Linked DNA regions of Homo sapiens. The protein of the gene in region 2 interacts with the protein of the main gene of each other region in a biochemical or structural test. Each region holds a gene or a part of one and is shown on either strand. Other genes may lie near its edges.

The links.
Region 1: of the proteins of MAPKAPK2 (region 2) and CDC25A, one has a biochemical effect on the other in vitro, tested with the Homo sapiens proteins (one study listed by IntAct).
Region 3: of the proteins of MAPKAPK2 (region 2) and RCSD1, one has a biochemical effect on the other in vitro, tested with the Homo sapiens proteins (one study listed by BioGRID).
Region 4: of the proteins of MAPKAPK2 (region 2) and LSP1, one has a biochemical effect on the other in vitro, tested with the Homo sapiens proteins (one study listed by BioGRID).

What each region holds. Positions count from the first base shown.
Region 1 is NC_000003.12:48,185,414-48,192,613, forward strand, and holds the start of CDC25A (M-phase inducer phosphatase 1), read right to left. Parts: upstream 3,005-7,200; 5' UTR 2,535-3,004; coding exon 2,365-2,534; intron 1,367-2,364; coding exon 1,290-1,366; intron 1-1,289. UniProt on the Homo sapiens protein: Tyrosine protein phosphatase which functions as a dosage-dependent inducer of mitotic progression. Directly dephosphorylates CDK1 and stimulates its kinase activity. Also dephosphorylates CDK2 in complex with cyclin-E, in vitro.
Region 2 is NC_000001.11:206,722,889-206,729,909, reverse strand, and holds part of MAPKAPK2 (MAP kinase-activated protein kinase 2), read right to left. Parts: intron 1,201-7,021; coding exon 1,061-1,200; intron 876-1,060; coding exon 811-875; intron 515-810; coding exon 435-514; intron 1-434. UniProt on the Homo sapiens protein: Stress-activated serine/threonine-protein kinase involved in cytokine production, endocytosis, reorganization of the cytoskeleton, cell migration, cell cycle control, chromatin remodeling, DNA damage response and transcriptional regulation.
Region 3 is NC_000001.11:167,696,211-167,703,231, reverse strand, and holds part of RCSD1 (capZ-interacting protein), read right to left. Parts: intron 6,134-7,021; coding exon 5,390-6,133; intron 1-5,389. UniProt on the Homo sapiens protein: Stress-induced phosphorylation of CAPZIP may regulate the ability of F-actin-capping protein to remodel actin filament assembly.
Region 4 is NC_000011.10:1,848,366-1,856,101, reverse strand, and holds the start of LSP1 (lymphocyte-specific protein 1), read right to left. Parts: upstream 3,019-7,736; 5' UTR 2,958-3,018; coding exon 2,905-2,957; intron 1-2,904. UniProt on the Homo sapiens protein: May play a role in mediating neutrophil activation and chemotaxis.

The DNA.
Region 1 (7,200 bases), on a different chromosome or scaffold from region 2:
CCCTGTCTCAAAAAAAAAAAAAAAAAAAGGCCAGGTGCAGTAGCTCACCCCTGTAATCTCAGCACTTTGGGAGGTCGAAGTGGGTGGATCACCTGAGATCAGAAGTTTGAGACCCACACCTGTAATTCCAGCTACTAGGGAAGCTGAGGCAGAAGAATTCTCTAAATCTGGGAGGCAGAGTTGCCTGGGTGACAGAGTTGAGACCTTGTCTCAAAATGAAAAAGAAAAATACAACTACTGGTCATGACATGCAAGGCAAGCACTTGCTGCCTTTAACAAAATGACACCAAGGTGTCCATCTCACAAAAGGCAGCAGGGTGAAGGAGACACTGTTCAGCATTACTAATATGCCAGCTCAGATGACGCAGACCCACCCACCCATAGCTCATGTGTCTATACAGCCTTATGGAAAGTGAGGTGTTACAGCCCTTGCTCACCACACTGCTACAAGTGATAATCCTATCCCCAGTTCTATATTAAATTACATTCTACATACAGAAGCCTACATTACATTTTAAGACTTGCTCTTGCAGTTCCTTTAACCTAAAGGATCTTTGCACCAATGGTCTTATCTGTACAAATACAGATAAACTCTGCAGTAATATGAATTCATGAAGAATGAAATGCACTGGCAATTTCCTCCATAGCAGCATCACTGAAATGATTTCATGACACTGTACTTCCAATCATTTGATCCTGTATTTTAACCAGTAAGATTGCCTGAATGCCACTTACAGTGGTATGGTGAATTATACTTTACTACCCATCCTTCAAGGGCAAGCACACACCACCTCCTTATAGACATTTGAAACCTATTTCCTTTCTTCATAAACAGCCACAAGGGCTCCTTTGTATTGTTCTCAATAATGTTTATCACCGGGCGCGGTGGCTCACGCTGTAATCCCAGCACTTTGGGAGGCCGAGGAAGGCGGATCACCTGAGGTTGTGAATTCGAGACCAGGCTGACCAACATGAAGAAACCCTGTCTCTACTAAAAAATACAAAATTAGCCGGGTGTGGTGGTGCATGCCTGTAATCCCAGCTACTCGGGAGGCTGAGGCAGGAGAATCACTTGAACCCGGGAGGTGGAGGTTACAGTGAGCTGAGATCATGCCATTGCACTCCAGCCTGGGCGACAAGAGCGAAACTCTGTCTCAAAAAAAAAAAAAAAAAAGTTTATCACCCAATGCCATGACTTCCTCAAGTTCTCACCAAAACTAACCTCCTGGGTGAAAAGGCATGTTTCAGGAAATTCAGAGTATTGCTCCCCACACAGCAGACTTAAATACCTGAATCTGTTGACTCGGAGGAGCCCATTCTCTGCAGATTACTGTTGTTCTTCACCTCCAGTGGTTGCTCATAATCACTGAAACCAACAGAAATAAACCATGAATGATTTATAGGATATAATTAAAAGGTCACATGCAGGAGATAGGCCATGAGATTAAGAAGCAGCCAGGCTGCCAGAAACCATTTCTAGGCCACACCACAAGTGGCAAAGATCCCACTTTGCCACTCTGAACACCCAATTAGCACTTGGGCAAAGGAGAAAAAAGGAGTGGGTGGGCATGGCCTTGGACCACATTGCAGGTTATGATGGCTATGGCAAATGTTGGGGTATTTCCTAAAATAAAAGCATGTGTTCTAAGTACTGAGACAGAGTCGGGATGAAAGTTGAACAGGACACTTTCTGCTTTTCAGAAGTTGGGAAACGCACAAGACATGTGCTTAGCAAACGGGATGCCAGAGATTGAAGGGAAAGTAGCTCTTCCGCGGGAAACACCGTGGGATGCATTTTTTGCTATCAGGAAAAGCCCAGGAAGCTTTCTGAAAGTTGGGTAAAAAGACCTGGCCTTAGGAAAGCAGCAGAGTGGACATCAGGAATGTGCACAGGGCGAGGGACTGAGATGATTTTACATAAACGCCAGGAAAGAAAATGCCATGGTCCTTTGTTGAGAAGGAACAAAGATCACAGCAAACGAAGATCCTGAGGATGGTTTAGCAAAGGGTGAAAGTGAGTGCCTAGAAGAGCCTGATTTTCCCCGCGGGGGTAGATTCCAAAGAGCTTCCAGGGATAGAGATAGAAGGAGAGTACGGAGCAATCCGAAAGGGGTGAAGGTGGGCCTGGCTCGGGCTTAGGCCCAAGGATCTCCACCTCTTCCCCTGGAAGGTCCCGACGGCCTCTCCCGCCCAACATTCCGCCCGGGCGGGGGTGCACATGGCAGGCCCTAGCCCGGCTGTCCCCGAGCGGCGAACCCGGACGGACGGGTCTCGCCCTTCTCCCGGTCCGTTTCCTGGCCTGATCTCTCCGAGGCCGACACCGAGGCCAGGGGCCCGGAGCACCGCCCGCCGGTCTCTCCTTACCTGCCCAGACCCTGCAGCTGGTCCATAGTGACGGTCAGGTTGGTGACAGGCGACAGTCCCCCGGCGGCTGAAGCGCCAAATAGCGCCTTCACGACGGGCTGCGACGCGGGAGGGGGGCTGCAGGCGAAGAGCAGGCGGCGGCGGTGCGGGGGCTCCGGGCCCAGTTCCATGGCGGCGCCCGGCCTCGCAGAGCTCCCGCTCCCTCTTCCTCTGCCTCCGCCGCGACCGCCCCGCCCCGCCGACACCGGCCTCGGCCGCGCGCCACCGGCGCCCGCGGGTCAAACACAAACACGACTCCGCGGTTCAGGGACGCGGCTGCCGCGGGCAAGCGGCGCGGCCGGGCGGGTGTGCGGACCCTCCAGGCGCCAGCCACCAGCCACAGGCACGGGTGCTTCCCTCTCACACCGCGAGGCCAGCGGGCGGGCGGGCGCCGGCAACCTGAAGATTAAATCCAAACAAACGTGGCGGGTCGGCAAGAGAAGCCGGGCGAGAGCCTCGAGGCAACGGCCCAGGCTCACGCTGTCTTCGCTGTTCTCCCACCCGCTTGCCCAGCTCCGGGTAGCAGAAAACCAAGCCGACCTACACCTCTTACCCAGGCTGTCGCAGCCAGGCCGGCCTTTCGCGGTAATAGCGGCTCAGTGGGGCCAGCTGCTGCCCCGCCCCCCTTTCCTAGTTGGCGCCAAACGGAATCCACCAATCAGTAAGCAACTTCTCCTCCTCTCAACCGAATGGCAGCTAGGCTGGGCCAATGAGAGGGGAAGAAGAAAGCGGCTCGCGGGACTCTGCCAGGTCATCGGCTCTCAGAAGGGGGCGGAGCCCAGAGCAGAAGAGCGGGGATCAAAATGAGAGGGGGAGCAGAGGTCAATGAAAACTCCCAGCAGAACCTGCGAGGCGCTGCTCGCGGCTGAAAGGCCCCTTTGCCCCGTCGCATGCTGGGAAGCGTAGTTCCCATCGCGAGCTGCCGTCCAGTTAGCTTCGGCCCCCTTTGGGCCTCCGCTACCTCGCCCCCAGCCGGGCGCCCCACACTCTGAGGCAATGTGGAGGCTAAGGAAGACCTGTGGAGGTCTGGCCGGATCCAGCCTTGGCTCGGCCTCTAACCGTGCAGTATTGTGGACCCCTTTCTTCCGCCCCGGGCCTCCAGGCCCCATTTTATAATGAGGGAGGGAATGCAATGACCCCCAGGACTGGACTCGACCACCAGGGCCCAACTCTGGAGGGCTCACAGACCCTGGGTGCTGCTGGCCTCATGGGATTTGAACCCCGCAGTACAACCTGTGCTGTGGGCCTCAGCATTTTTTGCTCACTTCCATTCTAGCCCTTATTGGATGCTCTTAGAATCATTTCTTTCTTTCCCACCACTTCTTAGCCCCCTGGGAGCTCCTAGAGAGAAATAACAGCAAACACAATAATAGCAAATAATAGCTAAAGTTTACATAATGCTTATGCACTTGACACTGTTCCCAGTGTGTTAATCTGTATTAATTCATTTAATCTTTACAACTCTGTGACATAGGAATTATCCCCATTTTCTAAGTGGGCATATTTACTTTTACAGCGCCGAACCTGTGGCAGCTCCTAGACGGATTTTGAGGGCCATAAGTGCATGATTTAATTGCAACCTACTGCTGGGCTTAGTGGCTCACGCCTATCATCCCAGCACTTTGGGAGGGCGAGGTGGGAGGATTGCCTGAGCCCACGAATTTGAGACCAGCCTGGGCAACAAAGTGAGACACCCCCTGCCCCCCACTCAAAAAAAAAAAACCCTACAGTTTGAAAAGCCATGCTGGACAGGTGGAAACCCCAAACCTTTGGCCCCAACACCAGACCCTTCACAGTGAGGAACCTCTCTCTCAGGATTCATCTCCTTTTCTGTGCACCAGTGCTCCACCACCCAGGAACCTCCCTTCCCTCCAGAAACCCCAGGCTATTTAGGCCTCTCTGCACAGTTCACATGGTCTGTGGTCCCACTGTTTCAAATAGTTCTCCCTGTCGTATCTCTGAATACTTTCCTCTCCTCCTGTGTTTTATGTGGTTTAATACTTGGCTCAACAGGCCGGGAGCGGTGGCTCACGCCTGTAATCCCAGCACTTTGGGAGACCGAGGCGGGCGGATCACGGGGTCAGGAGATCGAGACCATCCTGGCTAACATGGTGAAACCCCGGCTCTACTAAAAATACAAAAAATTACCGGGCGTGGTGGCGGGCGCCTGTAGTCCCAGCTACTCGGGAGGCTGAGGCAGAAGAATGGCTGAACTCGGGAGGCGGAGCTTGCAGTGAGCCAAGACCGAGCCACTGCACTCCAGCCTGGGCAACAGAGCGAGACTCCGTCTCAAAAAACAAAAACAAAACTTGGCTCAACATTCCTGTTACTGCATTCATTCATTCAACATATGTTTATTTAAGGATTACTAGAACAAATTCAGTGCTTGAAATAATACCACAATCCCTGCTCTCAGGGAGCTCTGGTCCGCTGAGCATAAAGCTCCTTCTAATAATGGAATTATTACCATGACAATAGCTGTGGTTTGTGGAGGGATGGTGGGCACCTAGAGGAGGGGCGGGGACTGGGGAAGGCAGTACGGTGGGGGGCACGTCCTAAAGGAGATTAAAACTAAAGGTCAAGGTTGCTGGAGAAGGGGAGCTTGGGGCTGGTGGGAAGTGCTTTCTAAGGAAACGGCCCTCGGCAGCCAGGAGGTGAGGAGGAACGCCGTACTTGCCGGGAGCTACTCCTGAGTTGATCCAGTCGGTTCTAGAATGGGCACATGGGACTGGCTGTGAGGGACAGTTCTTGAAAGGATTGGAGTTTGCTGAAGAGTTTGGCCTTATCCTGTGGACAGTGGAGGGTGTGTGATAACCGGATCAGATTTGCTTTAGGGTGGATCAGTGGAGGAGAGTGGGGAGGCCTGAGGAAAAAGGAGGTGGCTGTCTCAAAAGTCTGGGAGATTCTGAAGCAAGGTGGGGGCCTTGGAGACAAAGGAAGGGAATGATTCTGTGAGCCCTGAAGGAGGTAGATCTCATCAGATTTTGATAATTGAGAGTTAAGATTGTAGGGGGCTAGAGGGAAGGGAGGAGGCTAGAATGATTCTTAGGTAATGATTCAAGTACCTGGGTGGATGTAACATTTCAACAATTGGAGGCATACTTCTTGGAGGAATTTGATGAGCTCAGTTTTGTGCTGGTGGACTGGCTGGGGGGTGTAGTCAGGAGGCAGATTTGGTGTTGATTAGCATGAAGATGGTAATGCCCATTGAGGATGTACAAAGGGTTTTTAGGACCCTGGATCTGGGGAGCACCAGCATTGAGGACTTGATGTAGTGAGACAGGACCGCAAAGCTGGGGCTGAGATAGAAACCACAAGGGAGTAGCCGAGTCCATAGTTCAGAGGTGCACCCAGGAGAGTCACTGAAGGTGGCCAGAATGAGGTCACAGGCAACTATGGAAATCATGTAGGAAGGCGAGGAGGTGGCCACAGAAGGCCATGGGAAGGGAAAAGTTGGCACAGAAGCTACAATACAGTTCAAGTGTGCCAAAATGCATGTACACAAATATTCATGGCCATGTTAATCATTTTAGCTCCAAACAGAAAGCAACCCTAATGCCCATCAACAATAAAATGGGTAAATAGAACAAAGTTATTTTATACAGTGATGAAAAGGACAGAAGCGCTACCCACAGTAGGAGTGAATCTCACATCAATGTCAAACATAAGAAGGAAGACACAAAAGAGAACATGCTGTTTAGGTCTGGCTCACACCTGTAATCCCAGCACTTTGGGAGGCTGAGGCAGGCGAATCACTTGAGGCCAGGAGTTCGAGACCAGCCTGGCCAACATAGTGAAACCTCATCTCTACTAAAAAAAAATATATATATATATACACACACACACATATATGTGTGTATATATACATAATATACATACATGTGTATATATACATAATATACATATATATGTGTACATACATATACATATATATGTATATATACATATACATATATATGTATATATACATATACATATATATGTATATATACATATATACACACATATGTAATATACATATATACACACATGTAATATACACAAACATATATATACACACATATATACATACACAAAAATTAGCCATGTATGGTGGTGCACAACTGTAATCCCAGCTACTATGGAGGCTGAGGCATGAGAATTGCTTGAACCCAGGAGGTGGAGGTTGCAGTGAACCGAGATTGAGCCACTGCACTCCAGCCTGGGTGACAGGGCGAGACTCCGTCTCAAAAAAAAAAAAAGTTAGTTATGGTACTAGTTACCTTTCAGAAAGATGGTGGTGACTGCAAGGGGCCATGAAGGGGATATTGGCAACTGGTCATATTCTGTTTCTTATTTATTTTTCACTTTTTGAGACAGAGTCTTGCTCTGTGGCCCAGGTTGGAGTGCAGTGACATGATCATGGCTCACTATAGCCTCGAACTTCTGGGTTCAAGTGATCCTCCCACCTCAGCTTCCTGAGTAGCCTGAACTACAGGCATGCACCCATAAACCTAGCTAATTAAAAATTTTATTTTTTATTTTGGCTGGGCATGGTGGCTCACGCCTGTAATCCCAGCACCTTGGGAAACCGAGGTGGGTGGATCATGAGGTCAGGAGTTCGAGACCAGTGTGGCCAACATGGCAAAACTCCGTCTCTACTAAAAATACAAAAAATTAGCCGGGTGTGGTGGCACACGCCTGTAATCCCAGCTACTTGGGAGACTGAGGCAGTAGAATCACTTGAACCCAGGAGGCGGAGGTTACAGTGAACTGAGATCATGCCATTGCACTCCAGCCTGGGCAACAGAGCAAGAC
Region 2 (7,021 bases):
AAAAGGATCCTGGTTCCTCCCTTCCTCTACTCATCCAGCAACCATTTGCCTATCCTGGGCACTGCCCACCACGAGGAGTGGCAGCTCTCTATGGGCAGGTGCCTGCCTCTGCAGGGTTTCCAGAGTGCCTGGAGATAACAGACTGACACACAGAACCCGCAGTAAACACCACAGGAACAGAGAAACCAAGAGTGTGACTGAGGGGTTCTGCCTGAGGAGAACCACAGGGCTGAGTGGGGCCAGAGAATGCTTCACTACTGGGTTTAGGGGTTTGCCCATGGGCAGAGAGGGCAAGGCCCTACAAGGCAGAGAATGGCATGCTCAGGAACCAGGCAGCAAGGACGCAGGGTGGCCTGGCAACCATCTCTGGGGTGGCCACAGCCCCTTTGTTGCCCCCCACAGCACTCGGGCTCAGGGTTATGAACAGCTGGCACCTTGACATCCCGATGGGCAATGTTGATTGAATGCAGATACTGGATGGCCTCACCGATGCTCTTCATGATTTCGGATGCTTCTGTAGAGGGGAGGGAAGAGTGAGTGGGAAAGAAAGTCACAAAGACACATCATTAGGCTTGAAAACCCAGTGCACCGGGTCCCACCTCTGTGCAGCCTGAGGCTCCCCACAGCCACCACCCACCCCAGAAACAAAGCCACCAGGAGCTTCCCTGGTCAGCTGAGGCACCCCTTGCAGCATGCTGGAGGGGGCAGCAGCCTCAGCACCCTTCCCCAAGAGCAGGCACTGCAAAGGCCCCCTTCAGACCCCCACTGCCCTGCCTGCCTGCACGTGCTCCCACAACAGACCCTTTCTACCTCTTTCTGTGAATGCCTGGTCTCCTCGATCCTGGATTCGGCTAAAGAGTTCTCCACCGTCCAAACTGAAATGAAGCCACAGTGAGATCCAGAGAACACAACAGCCCGCCGCCACTCTCCACTGCCCCCCAAAAAATCAAGTGTTTACATTCCAGGCTTCAGGCCCATCCCTGGGCTGTCCTCAGAGGGTAAGGTGCCTGAGTGAGGAGTGGGAACAGGCTGGGCCGGGACTAGAACAGTGGCTGCTTACCATTCCATGACAATCAGCAGGCACTTCCTCCCTGCGTACAGATTCTCGTACACATCCACGATCCGTACGATGTGCGGGCACTGGGAGGCCCGCCAGTGCAGCTCCACCTCCCTGCGGGCCTTGGGGCAGTCCTGAAGCATCTGCAGGCCAAACAGCTTTCTGAGTAACTGCGCTGTCACATGGGCCTGCTCTAAGCCCCTGGCCCACATGCCCTGACATCGCCACCGACATACCACAAACCCCCCACTCCTGCTGGCCCCCCCCACCAGCCCCCTTGGCACATTTCCTGAGGCCTCTGCAGTTCCTTATCTGCTCTATATGAAATCTCATGATGACTCTCTTGGGGCCTTGACAGCTACACTGAGATCAGCCCTCAGGCCATTCGGTCCAGCTTAGACCTGTCTCCAGCTTAGGCCATAAAGTCTACTGTGGAAGGCAGGCAGCACTCAGGTACTGGGAAGCAGGGGGTGAAGGGGCTTCGGGGAGAAAGGCAGACTGAGAAAAACCAATACAGTATTGGAAAGGGGGCTAGAGAGAAGAGAGACTCCAGAGTCCATAGGAAAAGGCCCCTCAGCAATTACTCAGACCCAGCACAACAAATCCAGAGCAATATTCTCTCTACCTCTGTAGTTGACTTCAACCTGGCAACAGATGGCCTTGGAAGTCAGCCGGATGCCAGTATGAATCCAGTTATTACTAGATTTCCAAGCTTGAGCAAGTTACTTAACTCGTCGAACCTCACTGATGCCCCTTCTTCTCCCTGGACCAATTGGCTAGGGGTATTAAAGGAGGCTGGCTTCTCACCAGCCTCAGGGGTTCAATCTTGACCTGTCTAAGCCAGTCTCATTAATTCCAGTCCCTTTGCTAGTGACTGGCTTGGGAACAAGCCTACAACTCAACTGGCCAAGAGCCTTGTAAGAAATCTGCTGCCGGGCACGGTGGCTCGTGCCTGTAATCCCAGCACTTTGGGAGGCCGAGGCAGGCAGATCACGAGGTCAGGAGATCAAGACCATCCTGGCTAACACGGTGAAACCCCGTCCCTACTAACAATACAAAAAAAATTAGCCAGGCATGGTGGCAGGCGACTGTAGCCCCAGCTACTCAGGAGGCTGAGGCAGGAGAATGGCGTGAACCCTGAGAGGTGGAGCTTGCAGCGAGCCGAGATCACGCCACTGCACTCCAGCCTGGGCAACAGAGCGAGACTCCATCTCAAAAAAAAAAGAAATCTGCTAAGAGGCTTCTTAAAGGGAGCACAAGAAATGTACATCATCTCTCCTGCATATGGCACCTGGGACCATGACAGTCACATTATTACCAGTAAGGGGGGCCTAAGAGGATAAACCAATGCACTGAGGAAGGCAACCAGGAGAAATGGCAATCACCTGGATCCTCGCTGCCATCACCAGGGATCCCTCAGTACTTCTTTTTGACAAGATAATAAACTCTTCTTACTGTTTAAGCTGCTTTTCATGAAATTGTCTATTGCTTGGAGCCAAAAGCATCCTGATCTACCCTTCCTTTGTAAAGTGGGGATGGATAATGGCTTCTGTTTCACAGATTTGTTGTGAGGATTAAATGAAATATTTCCACAAAGCACCTCACAGAGTATCTGACATGCACTCACTAATAGCTGTCATTTTTATCACCAATTGTCTAAGTGCAAGCGCAGGTGCCAAAATAATTAAGACAAGGACACTCACAGATTTAGCATCTTCATGGGAAGTCAAGATGAGCCCTACACAGTCCACACTCCAACTGCTTTGGACATTCAGAGGGCTGGGGTGTCCAAGAGACATGCTGGGAAGGAAATGGACAGGCAGAGGGAAGGCATGAAGGCAGAGGGAAACGTGGGAAGCAGGTGCTGACTGACCGAGATGGAGTGGAGCTGGGGTGATACAGCAGGGAGGCCTAAGAACCTGCTGGAAAGTGTCTGAAGCTTGCAAATAAGATCAGATGGCCATGATGGAGCCAGCTTGCAGAGGGAAGGGAAGGACAAATGAGCATTTCCAACAAGAATGCTGGCATACATTTATGCTATGGCCCATGATATGTTGGGTTTTTCCTAACTGTACATTTGCCATTTTACAGGATGGGGAAGCTGAGGCTCAGAGAAGTAGCATGCCCAAGGCTAAGTTTCTGAGAAAAGGCAGAGCCAAGGTTGGAATCCAGGCCTGGTAGACTCCAAAGACCAAGTCTTTCCACCACACCACCCAGCTTTTAGAGGAGGCTGGAAGCCAAGATTTCTCAGACTGACTTTGCAGAGGCAATTCCCCAAACAGGTGACTAGAAGGAATCAATGACTAGATAACTCGGTCTCTCCCATGGAGTAACAGGTGGCCGGAGCCAATAGTTGCAGGAGGCAAGGTTCCCAGGAGGTCACACTGCCACCTTGTGGCCATATGAGGACACCTCATGGGTCTTGAGTTCTGCCACTTTCAACTTCATTAGGGTTTGTTTGTTTCTGAGACAGGGTCTCGCTCTGTTGCCCAGGCTGGAGTGCAGTGGCACAATCTTGGCTCACTGTAACCTCCGCCTCCCGGGTTCAAACAATTCTCCCACTTCAGCCTCCTGAGTAGCTGGGATTACAGGTGTGAGCCACCACGTCTGGCTAATTTTTTGGTATTTTTAGTAGAGACCGGGTTTCGCCATGTTGGCCAGGCTGGTCTCGAACTCCTGGTCTCAAGTGATACCCCACCTTGGCCTCCCAATGTGCTGGGATTACAGGTGTGAGCCACCATGCCCAGCCTTCAACTTCATTCATTTGGATGTACCAGGAAAAAAGTTTACTTTCCCATGCTCTAAGGGGAGCAAGAGAAGGCACTGGCCAATTTCCTTTGTATATAATTCAATCCAGCAAGCATTTACTGAGCTCCTACTATGGGCCATGCATTGCACTGAATGTCAAAACCAAATAGAGCAGTCCTGATCTGGAAAAGCCTAGGCTAGTGGGGGGCAGAAGAAGATATGAGGGGAGACACAGAAAATCCTTAAAATCCAGTGAGATTACATGCTGTAAGAGTGCTAAATTCAAAGGGTTCAGGAGGAACAAGGTTTCCAGAGCAGCCAAGCAGAAAGAACCTCGATCGCCCCCTACAGGCACACAGGAACTGGAGCCCAGAGGAGAAGAATCAAAGTTGTCAGATTTACTCAGAAGCAATGCCTGGTTGTAGAGTTACAATCAGGGAAGACTTGGCCCAGTCTGAAATTTGTCAATTTCTTCTTGCACAGCCTCACAGAGAGGTCTACCTTTCAGAGCCTGTGCCACATGCATTTAGGAGCGATGATACCTGCCTAGCCTCCCCCTCATAGAAACATTATGAGCATCTAATGAAATAATACCTCTAAAAGTGCTTTATTATCAGAAAGGCATTCATCACTGTCAACCAGTACCATTAATGCCACAGTACAGGGGGGTTCCTCCGTCACCACTGAGTTGAGCTTGGAGCATGTGGATGTAACCAGCACAAGTTATCACCAAGATTGTAGGCTGGGTTTCTGTCTTCAGCCCAGTGACGACCACCAGGACATCTGCCAACCAGAGCTGTGCTAAGTGAGGATGCACCAAGATCCAAATCTAAATGCATGCTCCTTAGCACCCCCTGAATTCCAAGCGCTCACTGCAACTTCCGCACTTTCTGCCCTGAACACGTTAGGAGTGCGTGGCACAAGGCAAAGGAGAGTTTGTGCAAGAAGGGCTAGGTTCACATCACACTTCCAGACTTGCACAAACTCTCTACCCATTAGAGGAGACGGATGTAGCACAGTGAACCTAGGCTTTGCAATCGCATGCATTTTGAATCCCAGTTCTGCACTTCCTAGCTTGTGTCATGCAAGCCCACCTATCTTTCTGGAAAGGGTTTCCTCATCTGTAAAATTAGATTCAACTTCGTGAAATAATATCCTTGAAGGTGCTTCAGAAACTCTATATAGGGTAGTTTCCACTTTGAAAAAATTTACCATTTTGCATATTTATGCCTTATCTGCCCAACCTAACTGAGTTTCTAATGGGCAAGATCTAATTTGATTTCTGTTTACTCCCTCCCCTCTTCCTTCCCTCACCTAGTGGTTAGGAACTTCTGAGCTAACACCCCCTCATTCTGTTGCTTCTTCTCCCTACTAAACTCTCTCCCCCAGTGACTGAGGGTGAGCTGTCCTTTCCATCCTGAAATAAATTGGAAAAGGTAGTATTTTAAATTTCTTAGAGAAACTTAGCAAGAATTTCCCATGAAGACTGGTCATTGCACATCCTGCATTTGTATTCCAGAACTTAAATTAAATTTAACAAAAAAAAAAAAAAAAAGGACTGGTCATTGACATCCATCCAGGCACATGTTTATCAGAAATCCCTGACTGGATAAGAAAATCAACCCAAGCAATGAAAGCCCTTCAGATGGGCGAGGCAGGCTGGCTGACGTCCTGGGGGCACAGCCCTGAAGTGCCAAAGTGGCTCTGTGGACAAGTGTGGAGCGCAGAAGGCCTGGAGAGAGGAAACCAAGAATGTGCTAATCTGGAGTACAGGGCTAAGTAAAGAACAGCAGGGGAGGTGGCCTGCACTCCAAGCCAAAGAAGAGACAGGGAAGGAAAGCAGGACTCCTAGGGCACTGCCAGAGGCCACCAGCAGAGCGAGGCGGCAGGTCCACCCAGAAGCCAAGGCCCCTGCTCCTTGGGCATGGGCATGGCCATGGGCAGTGAAGGCCAACAGGCCCTGAACCATGCTCTGAGGACTGGAGACTAGAAGAAGGAAGGGTCTTCCCACTAAAAAGCCATAGATCATTAGTCAAAGAATGCCTGGAGGAATTGTGAAATATTTTAAGCCCAAACTAAGCCCCGGTCCAACATTGTGACTCACCTCAGCCCCACAGTTTGTGCCTGAAATTCTCTTACACGTAGAAAAGGTTAATGATTGCGTGTGCTCAGCTGCAACGCCACAGGCAAGGCCCCCTGCCAACTGTGGCAGGGGCAGGGGCCCAAGCCACAGAGCGCATTGCCTGGGAAGGAAGCTCTAGGACAGCGGCAGTGAGGGAGCTGCGGGAGCTGCCTAAATACAGTCCCATGCCTCTCTGTCTCTTCCAGCACCTGAGGGGAAGAAGGACAGGACCCCTCCCCCTATTCAAGGTATGCATGGTTCCCCTCATCTCCTCCTGCAAGTCTGCCATTGTGGAGCCACGTGGAAAGACTCAGGAGTGGTCAGCATTAGAAGCCTGGCTGAGCCAGAGGACAGGAAAGCAGCCGGCACCCAGGGCCTGATGTGCCACTCGTCAGCAAGGTGGACATGAAGACAAGACTGGGAAGGAGCAGGCCCCAGGCCCTCAGGAGGACCCCCTTCACAAGCGCCACTGCTCACTAGCTATGTGAACTGGGAAAAGTTTCCAACCCCTTTGTGCCTTGGTTCCCTTACCCATTAATAGGACAGTAATAGTCCCCACCTCATGGGCTTGCTATACAAGATGAGTTAATAGATGTGCATGATGTAAATAACTAAGAATAACGCTTGGCACGTAATAAGTACTGCATCCGTGTTTGCTATTATTATTCTGCTCCCCACTCCCCATGTGTTGGAGTCCCACTGGGGGGGGCAACTGGGATTCCATTACACCCATTTCAATGAAGGTGTTATTAATAGCTCTGGGCACTGGACAGACGGGGGACCCCAGGACACGGGGAGGAAAGCAGGCTGTGGCATCCCAGCCCTGTACACTCCCTCACTACACCACCTAAGCTGGGCGCATGTAATGAGAGAAGGAAGACATCCCTCCCCAAGACAGACTCTGATTCAGCGCCAAGAGCGATGCAAAAGGCTGATTCTGGCACCAAGTGTGTTGTGGGTGTGTGGTGCGGTATGTGTTGGCAAATAAGACCTCCTCTTCACTCCCAGGAGGCAGCTGGGGGTCGGGGGAAAGCCACGTGTGTCACACACTAACCCACCGTGCCTCCAGGCCAGGGCCACCCACTCTGGTTCCC
Region 3 (7,021 bases), about 39 Mb from region 2:
GGGATGATTGAGGTGGGAATGCAGGGAGTGTGTCCCCAAAAGAACTGAGAAGAAATAGGGCCAAGAACTGAGTCTGTTGACCTGCCAGTTAACCAGGAGGGAGAAGAAAGAAAGAACAATGTTAACACTACAAAGTTACAAAGGTAGGGGATTCTCAAGAGAAGGATGTATTTCATCAGCTCAGGGAGAAAAGAATTTCAAATCAAATGTTGAGAAACCAAGGGGAATGACTTGGAAAGCAATTGAATCAGGCAATTAGGAAGTCGGCACTTATTGTTAATACAGCAAAGTCTCAGATTTGATATCCAAATATTTCGAATGTCTTTGTTTGGGTAAGTTAGTCTCTGGCATAGCTGAGTGCCCTACACAATACTGGATACATAATGAGTGTTTGAGAAACACTTGATAAATTTTTATTTATGTATTTATGTATTTATGTATTTATTTTATTTATTTTTAGACGGAGTCTCTGTCACCCAGGCCAGAGTGAAGTGGCTCGATCTCAGGTCACTGCAACCTCCACCTCCTGGGTTCAAGCGATTCTCCTGCCTCAGCCTCCTGCATAGCTGGGATTACAGGCACACGCCACCACCCCTGGCTAATTTTTGTATTTTTAGTAGAGACAGGGTTTCACCATGTTGGCCAGGCTGATCTTGAACTCCTGACCTCAAGTGATCTGCCCGCCTCAGCCTCCCAAAGTGCTGTGATTACAGGTGTGAGCCACCACGCCCAGATAACACTTGCTAAATTTATTTTAAGTATTAGAGTTGTATCTGATTCTGTGCCCTCTTTTCAGGGCGACTTTTCCTTATAAACAGAATCCTAAGTGCAGTGACTTGATACGTCCAGCTTGCCTATGATTGAAATCCCCAGGATGACTCCTTCTTTCAGTACGATATGTTAAAACACTTGTGAGGGGCAACCTAACAGTAAGGTGACCCTTTATAGTGCTTTCACACGTCTGATGCCTTTGGCGCACTTATGGAACTTTCCCCTGTTTTCTCTCGAAGAACAAATTGCTCCAGCCTTTGTGCTTCACATAGCACCCTTCTAGGGCAGAATCCCATTTATTCTACTGCCTTGTCGTTATTTGTTTATGCCTCTGTCTTCTTCACTTTTGACTCCCAGTATCTCACATAGTGGTAGGGATAACGGGTGCTTGTTAAATGCTGATTGCATGAATGCAACCATAATTAGTTTGTCTGATCAATCTATTTCTACCGACAGAGGAACAAGATGGGAATTAGGTTAGGGGGTTAGAAAACTGCTTAGAGGTGTGTGCTGCCTCTGGGGGATCCAGGAAAGACCTGGGACAGACATGGGTGCCTGAGGAAGCCCATAACTCAAGGGGTCAACCTTGTAATTGTTCTTACTGATGGTTCCTTTTGCACTAGTGACTCAGGCATTTTGATTCTGACCTTGACCTGGTTTAAGAGGAACAGGGAGGACTGGAGACAGTGCCCTCTTCCAGATTAAACAAATTATGCACACGTGCACAGGTACTTTGTAAGCAGTTTATTCTGATGATTGGGCAGGTGCCTAATATGTCAACATTGACTGAGCTCTGTGACCATGGACAACTCCTGTCCTCTCTTGGAGCCTTGGTTTCTTTCTCTCTCTAAACTAGGCTGGGCATAGTGGCTCCCTCCTGTAATGCCAGCACTTTGGGAGGCTGAGGTGGGCAGATCACTTGAGGTCAGGAGTGTAAGACCAGCCTGGCCAATATGGTGAAACCTTGTCTCTACTAAAAATACAAAAAATAGCCTGGCATGGTGGTGCGGGCTTGTAATCCCAGCTACTTGGGAGGCTGAGGCAGGAGAATTACTTGAACCTGGGAGGCAGAGTTTGCAGTGAGCTGAGATTGTGCCACTGCACTCCAGCCTGGGTGACAGAGCAACACTCCATCTAAAAAAAAGAAAGAAAGAAAGAAAGAAAGAAAGAAAGAAAGAAAGAAAGAAAGAAAGAAAGAAAGAAAGAAACTAGGCAATTGGGTTAAGTGGCGTCAAAGTTTGGCATCTCAGAGATGACCGAGAGGAAAAGCATTCCTCTCATTCCATTCAGAGATGGAAGTGGAGCTACTCTTTCTCCATCTGAGCTGCCTATTTGGGAGGAGAGTGCTCTTGAGGTTGCTGGGCATTCTCTTCCCCTGCCCAAGGCTCTGTTGGGAATACGGAAGTGGCAAGGCTTGAGAGATTACCAGTGAGCCTGCCCCAGAGCTCCTGGAGTTCCCGCAGGAAGACTTCTTCTACCTGAGACCTCCCTGAAGCAGCCCTCTTCCCTACTAGCTTTTCAACCAAAGTGACTTTTCAACCCTTCAGGATTGGAAGATGCTGTCAGTGAGATGGGGAGGTCTCTTGGCAAGGCAGGTGTCTCCTAACCTGAAAATAAGATGTAGCAACCACTGGCAGGTGACTACTTGGACCCAGTGACTTCATCCTCAAAAAGGACTAACAGATTGGGGCATGTATTTGCCTTCTCTAGACCTGGTGGAATCTCTCAGTTCCAGAAAATCCTAAATGTAAAGATTGCTTACTTAGAATGGAAAGTTTTTTTGTTGTTGTTGTGCTTTTTTTTTTTTTTTGAGACGGAATCTTGCTCTGTCACCTAGGCTGGAGTGCAGTGGCGCGATTTCCGCTCACTGCAAGCTCCGCCTCCCAGGTTCACGCCATTCTCCTGCCTCAGCCTCCTAAGTAGCTGGGACCACAGGCGCCCACAACCACGCCTGGCTAATTTTTTTTTGTATTTTTAGTAGAGACGGGGTTTCACTGTGTTAGCCAGGATGGTCTCGATCTCCTGACCTTGTGATCCACCCGCCTCAGCCTCCCAAAGTGCTGGGATTACAGGTGTGAGCCACCACGCCTGGCACTGGAATGGAAGATGTTAAAGAAATCTGGAGCACCTCTGCCTAACAACTTAACCCAGGGGTCTCAGTCATACTTTATGAGTCTTTGGGACTCACACATTTTTCTCCCTGATCTAGCGTGAGTGAGAATAACGTGAGGGCCCCAGGAGATCCCCTAAACACATCAGTTCCTCTTCTACCTGTACTTCTATCATTAGAGATTATTTCTTTTGGGTCAGACAATTTTCTGTCTTCTTTTAAAATCCATTCATTCACTCAACAAAGATTTTTTTAAAGAACCTACTATGTTCCAGGTTCTGTAGCAGGTGCTGGAGATGCAGTGAGGAAAAGGAGTAGAGAAATACAATTAAAAAATACACAGGAGAATTTCAAATAGTGATGTGTTCTATGATAAAAGTAGAATCGTGGGAGAAAATAACTGATGGGATGGAGGGAGGTCCACTTAGACTGAGTGGCACAGACAGGCCTCAGTGAGAAGGGACCATCTGAGCTGAGCTCTGAGCCGTGGGTAAGAAGCGGCCCTGTAAGGATCAGAAGGAATGTCCCACACAGAGGGGACAGCAAGGATAGAGCTCTGAAGTGGGAATGAGCTTGCTGTATTGGAAGAACAAAAAGACCTCAGCATGGCTGGATCACAGTGAGGGGGAGAGTCAGGGAGAGGTGGGTACATCCAATCCAAACCCATAGTACCTGTGAATTTGACCTTATTTGGAAAAAGGTTCTTTGCAGATGTAACTAAGAATCTCAAGACAAGATCATTCTGGATTTAGGGTGGACTCTACATCTAATGACTGACATCTTTATAAGGGGGAGGAGGGGGACTATGAGACACACAGTAACAGTGAAAGGCCGTGTGATGGAGATGGAGGCAGAGACTGGAGTGGTGCATCTAGATGCCAAGAGATGCCATGAATTGCAGCAGCCACCAGGAGCCAGAGGAGGCAAGGGAGAATTCCAAGGGTTGCAGGCAGCTGCCAGAACTTAAGGGAGAGGAACAGATTCTCCCCCAGAACTGCTAGAGGAGACCAACCCAGCCAACAACTTAATTTTGAAGGTCTGAACTGTAGAGCTGTAAGAAAGTATATTTCTATTGTTTTGAGCCACCAAGTTTGTGGTAATTTTTTATGGCGACCCTGATACAAGAGGCGAATAATTTTAGCAAAGAGCAGTTGATCTAAAAAACAAACCAAACCTGCTGGTTGCTGTCCAGAGAATGGATTATATACGCAGGGGGAAAAAAAAGTGGAAGCAGGAAGCCAGAACTACTGTAAGGCCGGGCGCGGTGGCTCACGCCTGTAATCCCAGCACTTTGGGAGGCCGAGGCAGGTGGATCATGAGGTCAGGAGATCGAGATCATCCTGGCTAACACGGTGAAACCCGTCTCCACTAAAAATACAAAAAATTAGCCGGGCGTGGTGGCGGGCGCCTGTGGTCCCAGCTACTCGGGAGGCTGAGGCAGGAGAATGGCGTGAACTCGGGAGGCGGAGCTTGCAGTGAGCCGAGATCCCGCCACTGCACTCCAGCCTGGGCGACACAGCGAGACTCCTTCTCAAAACAAAAACAAAAACAAAAACAAAAAACAAACAAACAAACAAACAAAGAGGCTACTGTAGCAGGAAGCTGATAGTGGTGTGAGTAAATGAACGCATGAATGAATGAATGCACTAACAAAAGCGACGGGTGAAACAATTGTGGGTGACTGACTTGATGAGATTGTTAGGGACTCTGCAGAGCTGGTTCTGCTCTTAAAGCATAGATAGGTGAGCTCAAGATGGGCTTCCTGGGAGCTGGTGGGGAGCAGACAGGTGTAGAGGAAAGGGCCAGTAAATGCAGGCCCAGGCAGGAGGGCAGGGACTGAGTCACCCCGTCCTCCTCATGTGCAGCAGATGCCCAATCCCTGAGAGAGAGTGAACGTCCCAACATCACATGCAGCTTCTTTCTCTGAGGGCCAACTCAAATACTACCTTGGCCCTGAAGCATCCCCAGCTTTTTGTCCCATCCACACACAAATTGTTTCTGCTACACTTGCACTTTGGGCTTCCCTGGGAATGCCCCCTGTCCACTGCCCTATTCCACCTTGTTCATGCACATGAAAGAGTTGCTGGTCTCATGTGCTAAACTGAGATGATTTTTAGAAAGGAGCTCCCCTTTCTTTTTCATCTCTGGATCCCCTGCAGCAGCATGCCCAGGCTCCTGCACTCAGCAGGCTTCCATAGATGCTTGCAGGCCTCAGTTACTGAGCCGTGCCGAGGCTCGGTCACTCACACACACCCAGAAGCTTGCCAGAACTCCAAGTCAGCGAGAAGTTGGCAAGAGCAGAAGACACACTTCCTCTTTGTGTCCTTTTGTCCCCTCAGCCTCAGCGACAGCCTTTCTCCAACAAGTTGGCACGAGGCAGGAGCCTGGCACCTTTGTTTCTGCATGTCGAGCTGATTTATGAAGGGACTGTACGGAACAGGACATGTGACAGAGGCACACACTGGCCCTGGCACTGCCTTCTGCATGTGAACGAGCCAGGCCACCTACCTCCGGCTTGGGGACTGCTGGCTCGCTCTGGACCTCACTGCTGGTCTCCAGCTGGGCAGGGCCGGTCTGGGGGCTGCAGCCTGGCTCGAGCACTGCCCCCTCCTGTTGTTTTTCCTTGCCTTTTTCCTGCTTGGGGACATCTCCGCCCTTCACTCCTCCAGGGGGACTGTGGGGGGTCTCCTTCACTGCAGCTCCCTCCTCCAGCTTCTTTGTTTCTTGGCTGTCATGTTCAGGTCCCACCTCTTCATTTTGCACCCTCTCCCCCTTCACCTCTGTAGCCTTTTCCATCTCTGCTTCCTCTCCAGCTGGCTTTTCCTCCCTGGGGCTCCCACACCTATTTTCTGCCTCTGGGCCAGAGGTCTGGGGCGATTCCGGGACCTCCTCTTGGGCCGGGTGCTGGCCGTCCACCTCCTCTGAACTCCGCCTGGCCTTTTCACCGTTCTTGGCTTCCTCTGTGGCCCTGTCCTCCTCCTGCTTCTCTGTCCTGCTGGGTGACCTCCTCAGAGGAGGCTTTTCAGCAGGTCCCAGGGTTCTCACTCCCTCTCCCGCTGCTCCCTCACTGGACAAAGGGGATCCTGGGGCCTTGCTCTTGGATGGCAACACTTCATCCCCATCCTCTTCCTTAGCACCGTTCTGCTGAGATGACTCCACCGCCCTGAAATCTCCAAGTTCTCCACAGTCTGACTGTGACCTTCGGAATCGCCTGGAGGGAGGGCGCCTTTTTATTGAGCCCCTCGTCCGCACCTAGAAGAAAGTGTTAAGGAAAGTTATCCAAAAACTCATAAAAAAAGGCCAAGAGGAGGACTGTATGCACTTTCAATGTCAGTCTGGTGCACTGCTTCACAAGTCCACGCAAGGACCGTTTAATTTTCCAGGAGAACGAATCATTGTTTGCTATTTATTATAGATTAGAGCCATGTGGGATTGTGAAATCACATGGTGACCTGCAGACTTTTATTTTGTGAAGATGCAAATGCTTTCCATTCAGTAAAAAACAAAAACAAAAACTCATGATTTTATTGCACTGTAAAACATTAATCAGTTCGGTGTCTAATTTAGTAATTTTATTCTGACACTTAAAAAAAAATTCTTGCCGGGCATGGTGGCTCACACATGTAATCCAGCACTTTGGGAGGCTGAGGCAGGAGGATCGCTTGAGCTCAGGAGTTCAAGATCAGCCTGGGCAACGTAGCGAGACTCCATCTCTACTGAAAGTAAGAAAAATTAGCTGGGGGTGCTGGTGCATGCCTGTGGTCCCAGCTACTTGGGAGGCTGAGATGGGAATATAGCTTGAGCCTGGGAGATTGAGGCTGCAGTGAGCTGTCATCACACCATGGCACTTCAGCCTGGGCAGCACAGAAAGACCCTGCATTAAAAAAAAAAAAAAGAAATTGTCTAATTATCTATAAATAACCAGTTCTTCAAATGCTGTTTGACTAAGTTTTACCATCTTACAAGTTTCCTCATAAATTGACATATTGAATAAAATCTCTATTTTGCATAAGAGTCAGACTTTTATCTTGTGAAGATGCAAAATGCTTCCTATCCAGTAAAAAAGATAACTTATGATTTTATTGCACTGTAAAATTTTGAAAAATTTGAAAATTGTACTTTTGAAAATTATACTTTGAC
Region 4 (7,736 bases), on a different chromosome or scaffold from region 2:
ACATGGGGTGGGCACGCCTGGGCGGGTGGGCACCCCCGGGCAGCTGGGCCAAGGACAGGCACTGCAGCCAAAAATGCAGTGTGACCCCAGGGAGGGTACACCCCTGCAGAGCTGGGCTCCAACATCTGGATATGTCGAACCCAAGGTCTGAGAGGGCAACCTGACCCTCCCCAGCTGTGGACCAGGACGCCCCGTCCTCATCGCCTCAAGGCCTCCAAGGCCAGATAGTTCCTCAGTGTGGGGAGAGCCTTGCTCTTGGGGGCTATAGAGGGCAGGCATCCCCCAGCGTCACCAGAGAGTCCCCCCAGAGCCACAAGGCAGCTCTGTGAAATCCTCGTCCCTGCCCCCAAGGGACAAGGACAAGCTAGTGACTGTCTGCTGGACAGCGGGGCGAGACAGGAGTGCCCCCGAGTGGAGGAACCGCAGTCCAGCCTGGCTGGTAGCCGAAGCGGAGCCTGGACCCCGCCCAGGGTCAGGGGACCTTCTTTGGCCTGAGGCCTCGTGGGAGAGGACAGTCCTGTCCTGGGGGCATCTGAGAGACCACATCATGGAGGGGTGGTTCTGAGGAATCTGGCCCCGTCCCGGGCAGTCTGAGGGGAGGGGCCACATCATGCGACAGTCTGAGGGGCTGGACCCACTTGTCCAGCTGGAGGGGCTTGGCCTGCCCTGGACCTAGTGTTGAGGGCATGTCCTGAGACCGTCACAGGCTGGCGTACCTGGCACTCTGTGACATGCACGGGGGGCTGTCTTGTCCACTGCTCCAGCCCCAGCTGAGCCTGCCCAGCCTGGGCCTTCCTGGGGACTCCCGTGTGGGGGCTTCCCAGGCCATACATCCCTGCCTGGGTGCAGGGGACTTCTGTCCCATCCTAGACAGGAAACTCCCCGGTTCCCTTAGTCACCTTGTGAAATGAGAAGCCTACCCCACTGGGGCTCTCAGTTTCATTCTGAAAGGTCAGGCTTGGCTGCGCACCCCATGCAATTCGCGGGGGCAGGGGATGTCCAAGGAGGGGGTCCAGGCTTTGCAGAGCCCAGGAGAACCGCCGCTCTCCAGCTGGAGCGCCTGACAGCCCCGGCACAGGTGCAGCCCTGGCCTCCCAGGATCTGCACCAAGATGCCCCAGGATCATCTGTGCCTTGGCCATGCCCGCTCCAACCCCCCCTCCCCGCTCCTGGCCCGGGGGATCCAGGGCATTTGAGACAGCTGGGAGGGGGTGGCCAAGGATGAGGCCAAGGAGGAAGGCGGGGGTGCCCCAGCCCAGAGGCTCATGTCCTGCCCTTCTATGGGCATGAGGTGACCAGGAGCAGCACCTAGTCCAGGGCTGGGGGTGGTGCTGACAGGAGGGCCCGTTTTGCAGCTGGGACACAGCTGTTGTGCACCCAGAAGCCTGTCTCCCTGCACACGGCCTGGGCAGGGCATCCTCCCACCTCTCCCTGGGGACAGGCACGGACGTCCCGACCCAGCCCTCAGCCAGCCCCGGCCTCTGCTTAGCCTCCACTCCACTCACGGCACTCGGGGTCCCTTCAGTGGCCCCCCGCACCTGTACCCAAGTGGGATTTGGCAGCAAGAAGTCAGAGATGCAGACCCCTCACACATACCAGACCCACAGCAATGTGACGGCCACCAAGGACACAGACACAGGACAGTGACTGCAGCCACCAACAGCACAGGAGCTTTGTGTGAAGGCCGGGAGGTGGTCCCTGCACCGCCCCGGGTCGGGTAGACCGGGACCCTCTGCTGTCAGCACCAAGGCAGAGACTGGTAGCAGCCCTGGCTGCAGTTTTGGGGTATGTGAGCGTCACCCTGGGCCTCCTCTCAGGTCCGTCCTGTGTGGCTGCGGGCATCACACTCTTTCTGCAACCTGGGCCCCAGCGCCTTCCCTTCCGCACACCAGGCCACAGCCCCCGCTGACCTGCTCCTAGGCCGGCCTCTATCCCCAGCACCGGATCCCCATCCCCTGACCATTAGCACGTCGCCCCTCTGCCCCTCAAAGCCCTACCTGTCCCTGCACCGCACGCCCTGAGCCCTCCCATCTCTTCTGGGACCTGCACCGGGGGCAACTCGGGTTCCCCTGGCGAGGCTCAGCTGTGATGCCTGGATGCCTGCTGGCCGGCAGCTCCCCTCTGCCAGGGAGCCCAGTTACTAAGCCGCTAGCCCTCTCCACCCACCCCAGCACAGGGCTGGATGCCCATTGGTACCACAGAGTACAGCTGCCCGCTAGGAGGCCTTTGGCAGCGGGGTTTTTCTGCCCAGCTCTGGCAGTCCTACACACAACCTCTGCCATGCCCCCTCATGTCCCCACTCCAACCAACACACGGTGCCTGGCACCCAGCACAGGCACCTGCCAGAATCCTTGGCCTTGTCCTTTACCGCAGGTCAAGGGCAGCTTTGGGTGCCCTGCCCTGAGGCCTGCTGGGCCCCAAGCCTGGCGGCCTCCAGACCCTCAAGGCAGGATAGCCCCTCTCAGATAGTCCTGTGGGCAGGTGGCCAGGCCCGGGCCAGTTCCACCCATCCCAGAACAGCTGCTCCCCAGCCCCCACCTTGCCTCTTCCCAAGCTAACAGGGCCCACAGTCCCCAGCTCCTCCCTGGCAGTCCAGGACACGTCTTGGGGTCTCCTCGCTTCAGGCATCCACCATGGGCTTAGGATCCCACGCGCCTCCCCCAGTGAGTCCAGGGCACAGAGGCAGGCGGAAGAGACCTCCACCCTTGTTGTGAGAGGGGGGTCCCAGCAAGACTTCCTGCCACCTGTCTGTGGGTCCCCAGTTTCCCCATCGGACATCCAAGTTCTCCCATTGGGGGCCCCAGATTCCCCATCAGGCACCTCAGTTCTCCACCCTCCATGCAGCTCAAGGACTATGCACCCGTGGACACGGCACAGGGCGCCGGGCGTCGCCGCAGACCCTTACCCCAGCAACTCTTCCCGCTCCTCGGCACCCGGGTCACTCGAAGCCTCCGCCATCAGCCTGTAGTCTGGGCCCCACAGGGTGCTGGCAGATCCCTGGAGTGGGTGTACGTGCTGTGGCTTTCAGTGCTTTCTGGGGCGGCTTCTGAGCCCCCACCCCCAGCCGAGTTTCACTTCCCCCTTCCGGCTGCAGGTTGAGGTTTGGAACCTGTCTCGGCTTGGGTCAGGGTGTTGTTTTTTAATCTGTTGCTACAAGAGGAGAGGAAGAAAAAAAAAAAAACCCAAACCACCCCTCAGGAAGCGTTAAGCAAGTTACAGGGGCCTGGGGTGACAGAGACGGGGTGCGAGGGCCAAGATGGCCGCAGGCAGCTCTTCATGGCTCGGGGAGGGGGACCCATGTTACCCCTGGTCCCCGCTAGTAGCTCTGGCCATCAGGTCCACCTGTGAGTGGCCAGTTCTCCTGCAGCATCAGGGACAAACACGTCTGTGATCCCATAAGCACCACGTGAGCGTTTTAGCTTCTTTGGGTGAAATCTACCCAGAGGCCGGCTCTCCTACAGGTGCTCATGGAACTTGGTGGAGTCTTTTCTCGAAGCCTGGGGTCATAGCCTTGAGCACATCAAACAGCTGTGGGTCCCAGGTGGCTTTGGGGGCTGTGCCCGGGATGCCCCTGCGTTCTACCCGTCGGGTGCCTTGTTCTGTCTTGGACTGCCTTGCTGATGCCGAGCTGTCGGGCATCCGCCTCGTCCCCCCGCTGCCCCTTGCTCTCCGTGCTCTGGTCGCTGGAGTTGACCACCGAGTGGTTCGTGTCCCCAGGCTCTAAAGGCAGTGCCTCAGGGACCCTCCCAAGAGGCATAGGCCAGCCCGAGGGGAGGGATGGAGGCTGTTTCCAGCCCTCACTGTCCCCAGCTTCTGGGAGTGACCACGCAGTGGCTCCAGGGTCAGGAGGAGGGATGCATGACTGCAGGAGCCAGACCCCAAAAGCTGAGGCAGGGGAGGACTTAAGCTGGGCCAGAGTAGGGCAGCCACAGAGGTGGCGAAGGCTTCCCTGCTGGAAACCTCAGCGCAGGAGAATGGGAGAAGGGAGCCCTGGCCAGCGGCTGGGCCTGAGAAATCCAACCAGCAAGGACTTACAGGGGGTCCCAAGGCAAAGAGGGGCTGGAGAGAGGCCAGGGGTTGGGAGGGCCCTGGGCCCAGAGTGTTGACCCATCAGGGTGGGGCCGAACCGGAGGCCGCCTCCTTGGGACTCAGCGAGCCCCCCACCCACCAAACACACCACAAAGACCAGCAGAGGCTTTCAGAGCCCCACGAGTGGAGGCACCAGAGGGATCCGTGGCCCAGACGATGGGCAGGGCTAAAACCAGATCAGGCCCAGCGCCATGGAGATGAACAGGCCATGCCTGTGTCTTCCCCACGCCTCCTCCCTGGGGGTCCCTAAGGGCCCCCAAGTCCCCCTTGCAGAGTGGCACATGGCAGAGCCCTGCGGTTCTCACCATGCGGCCTCCATCCTGAGGCCATCCTGAAACGGCTCCCCTCATGGTGGTAGGGTCTCGCCTCCAGGTTGCAGCCATTCCGCTCACCCACCCGTCCAGGCACTGCATCGGCAGGTGCAATGCCTGTGTCCTCCTGCCCTTGAGGTCCTTCCCTTGGCCTGCAGAAGGGCAGCCCCAGCATCGTCGCTGGGAGCTTCAGGAACCTTGCCAGGAAGAGGACAGGCAGGTGGAGGCTGGGGTCCACCCCCTCCTGCCCTCTACTGCCCGAAGGCTGGACCGGCTGCCTCACTTTTGGAGCTAGAGCAAAATGAGAATGCAGAACCCTGTGGTTCAAAAACTGAGAATTTTGGCCGGGTGCGGTGGCTCACACCTGTAATCCCAGCACTTTGGGAGCCCGAGGCAGGTGGATCACTTGAGGTCAGGAGTTTGACACCAGCCTGGCCAACATGGTGAAACCCCATCTCTACTAAAAATATAAAAATCAGCCAGGCGTGGTGGCGGGCGGCTGTAAGCCCAGCTACTCGGGAAGCTGAGGTAGGAGAATCGCTTGAACTTGGGAGGCGGAGTTTGCGGTGAGCCAAGATCGTGCCACTGCACTTCAGCCTGGGCGACAGAGCTAGACTCCATCTCAAACAAAACAAAACAAAAACAAAAAAACCCTAAGAATTTCAAGAGGGAGACACAGAGCACAAAACCACACTCAGCCCCAGGTCTACGAAGCCGCTCGGGCGGAGGGGGAGGCCCACAGGCCCTGGAGCTGAAGGCTGGGGTGACGATCGGCCTGCCCCAAGGGCTTGGAGAGTGTGCCCTCCTCCCCTCTGCCTACCCAACCCTGTTGAAGCTGAATCATGCCCCTCACCCACATTCATATGGTGAAGTTCTAACCCTACCCCTAGCCTAACCCCTCAGAGCGTGACCGTGTTTGGAAGCGGAGTTGCTTCAGGTGTCATTAGCTGGATGAGGTCACGGTGGAGGAGGGTGACCGCTCAGCCAGTGTGACTGGTTTCCTTACAAAAAGAGGAAATGTGAGCCAGGCACGGTGGCTCACGCCTGCAATCCCAGCATTTTGGGAGGCCGAGGCGGGCAGATCACGAGCTCAGGAGATCAAGACCATCCTGGCTAACACGGTGGAACCCCATCTCTACTAAAAATACAAAAAAAAAAAAAATTAGCCGGGCATGGTGGCATGTGCCTATAGTCTCAGCTACTTGGGAGGCTGAGGAAGGAGAATGGCGTGAACCCGGGAGGCGGATATTGCAGTGAGCTGAGATCATGCCACTGCACTCCAGCCTGGGTGACAGAGTGAGACTCTGTCTCAAAAAAAAAAAAAAAAAAAAAGAGGAAATGTGGACACGGGACACAGACACCCACGGTGGGGAGCTCCCCATGAGAAGACAGTGGAGATGAGGGTGAGGCATCCACAAGACAGTTGCACCAAGGGGCACCGGGACCCCCAGCAGTGGGAGAGGCCTCAGGAGAACCAGTCCTGCCCACCCCAGGATCTCGGACTTCCAGAATGTGGGAGCTCAACGTCACGGCAGCCACAGGGCAGCAGGACAACCCCTCCAGCGACACGTCTCACAAGCAGGCCACGGCGTGGGGGAGCCCTGCCTGTTCTCAAGGAACCCAGGCCGAGGAATAGGCACACTCCAGGATGCTCACGGGGCTCTGGGAGGCCTTCTCAGCAGATGTACGCCCTCACCTCCCGAATCGCAGAGGAAAGGGAAGCCAGGGTGCAGGGTGTCCTCCTGTGGCCGTCCAGCCCTCTCTCCTGCCCACATCACCGTCGTGGAGAAGGCAGACTCTTGCTCTCTCACTCAGCTACTCCTCCGCAGACGCCAGGGCCATCTTGCGGCCCATCCACCTTCCTCCCGGTCCCCCAGCCTCTCCTCCCTACACCCTCCACGTTGATGTGCAAATCACTCAACCTTTTCACAAAAAAACAAAAGCAAAGAGCATCCCGGAGGCTGCCCAGCCCATGTGGCCGCCCGCTTCTCACTCCTTCCCTCCCTGGCCAAGCCCCTGCCTCCAGCCCTTCTCTCCACTCAGCCTGGACTGGCAGGCGTGGGCAAGGGAGGAGGTGTCCCCAGTGAGGGCCCAGCCACCCCTCAGGCCGTCCGGGCATTTCTGTGTGTGTGTGTGTGTGTGTGTGTGCGCACGAGCGTGTGTGACAGGGTCTTGCTCTGTCACCCAGGCTGGAGTGCAGTGGTGCAACCAGGGCTTACTGCAGCCTCTACCTCCTCGGCTCAAGTGATCCTCCCGCCTCAGCCTCCCAAATAACTGGGATCACAGGTACATACCACCACGCCCAGCTAATTAAAAAATTTTTTGTGTGTACAGATGGGGTCTCACCATGTTTCCCAGGCTGGTCTTGAACTCCTGGGCTCAAACCATCCTCCTGTCTCAGCCTCCCATAGTGCTGGGAGTACAAGCATGAACCACTGCACCCGGGCAGTGCATGCGTGTTTGAGAACGGTGTGGGCCTTGCTGGGTGGGAGGTTAAACAGGAACAGAGCCTTCCTCTGAAGAGCTAAGAGTCTACCCAAGAATCAGATGCAGAATCATTTCTTCCCTCAGTGCCTGAAACTCTAAGGGAGGTGTGTGGAGGGCAGACCCCGGCCCCTCCGTTGTCCTGTCTCCAAATCTGGTGCAGGGTCCAGCGAGCAGCACGGGGACCAGCAAGCGGCTGCATCAGGTGATGAGTTAGTTTGGATTCTGGGATGGAGCCAGCTGAGGGCATCAGATTCCGGGGGATGGAGCCAAGCAGGGAAGCCTTGAGGGGTGAGCCAGGAGGAGCTCTGTGCCAGGCGGGCAGGACACAGGGACACTCCAGGTGCAGAGGCCACAAGGCAGATGTCTGAGAGGTGCAGACCTGGATTTGAGGGGAGAAGCCGGGGGTTGGGACCTGTGTAGCAGGCTGGAGGTGCGTGTAGAAGTCCCAGCCGAGCAGGGAGAGGCCTGGGCAGGAGATGCTGTGTGCTGGCACCATGGGCTGGAAAGGACGTCCCGCAGTACAGGCCATCCCGCAGCGCCCCTCCCTGGCAAATCACTCTGTGGGCACACGCAGGTGCTGGAGGGGTTTGCTGTGGGGAGCAAAGCTGGGGGCTGTGCCCTCTCCCTGCACGCGAGCTGGGGTCACTCGGCCCCTTTCCTTCCACTGGCCGTGGCCACTGGTGAGCTTGGGAATCTGGCCCAGGAGTGAAGAGAGTGAGGAAGAGAAGCTCTCAACGGGGACAGAGACAGACAGGAAAGGGGCAGGGAAGGCTTCGAGGGGGCCGGGTGGATCGGAGGGATGCCAGGAGAGGGCAGTGACCAGACAGCTGCCCCTAGCAGAGCGGACAGG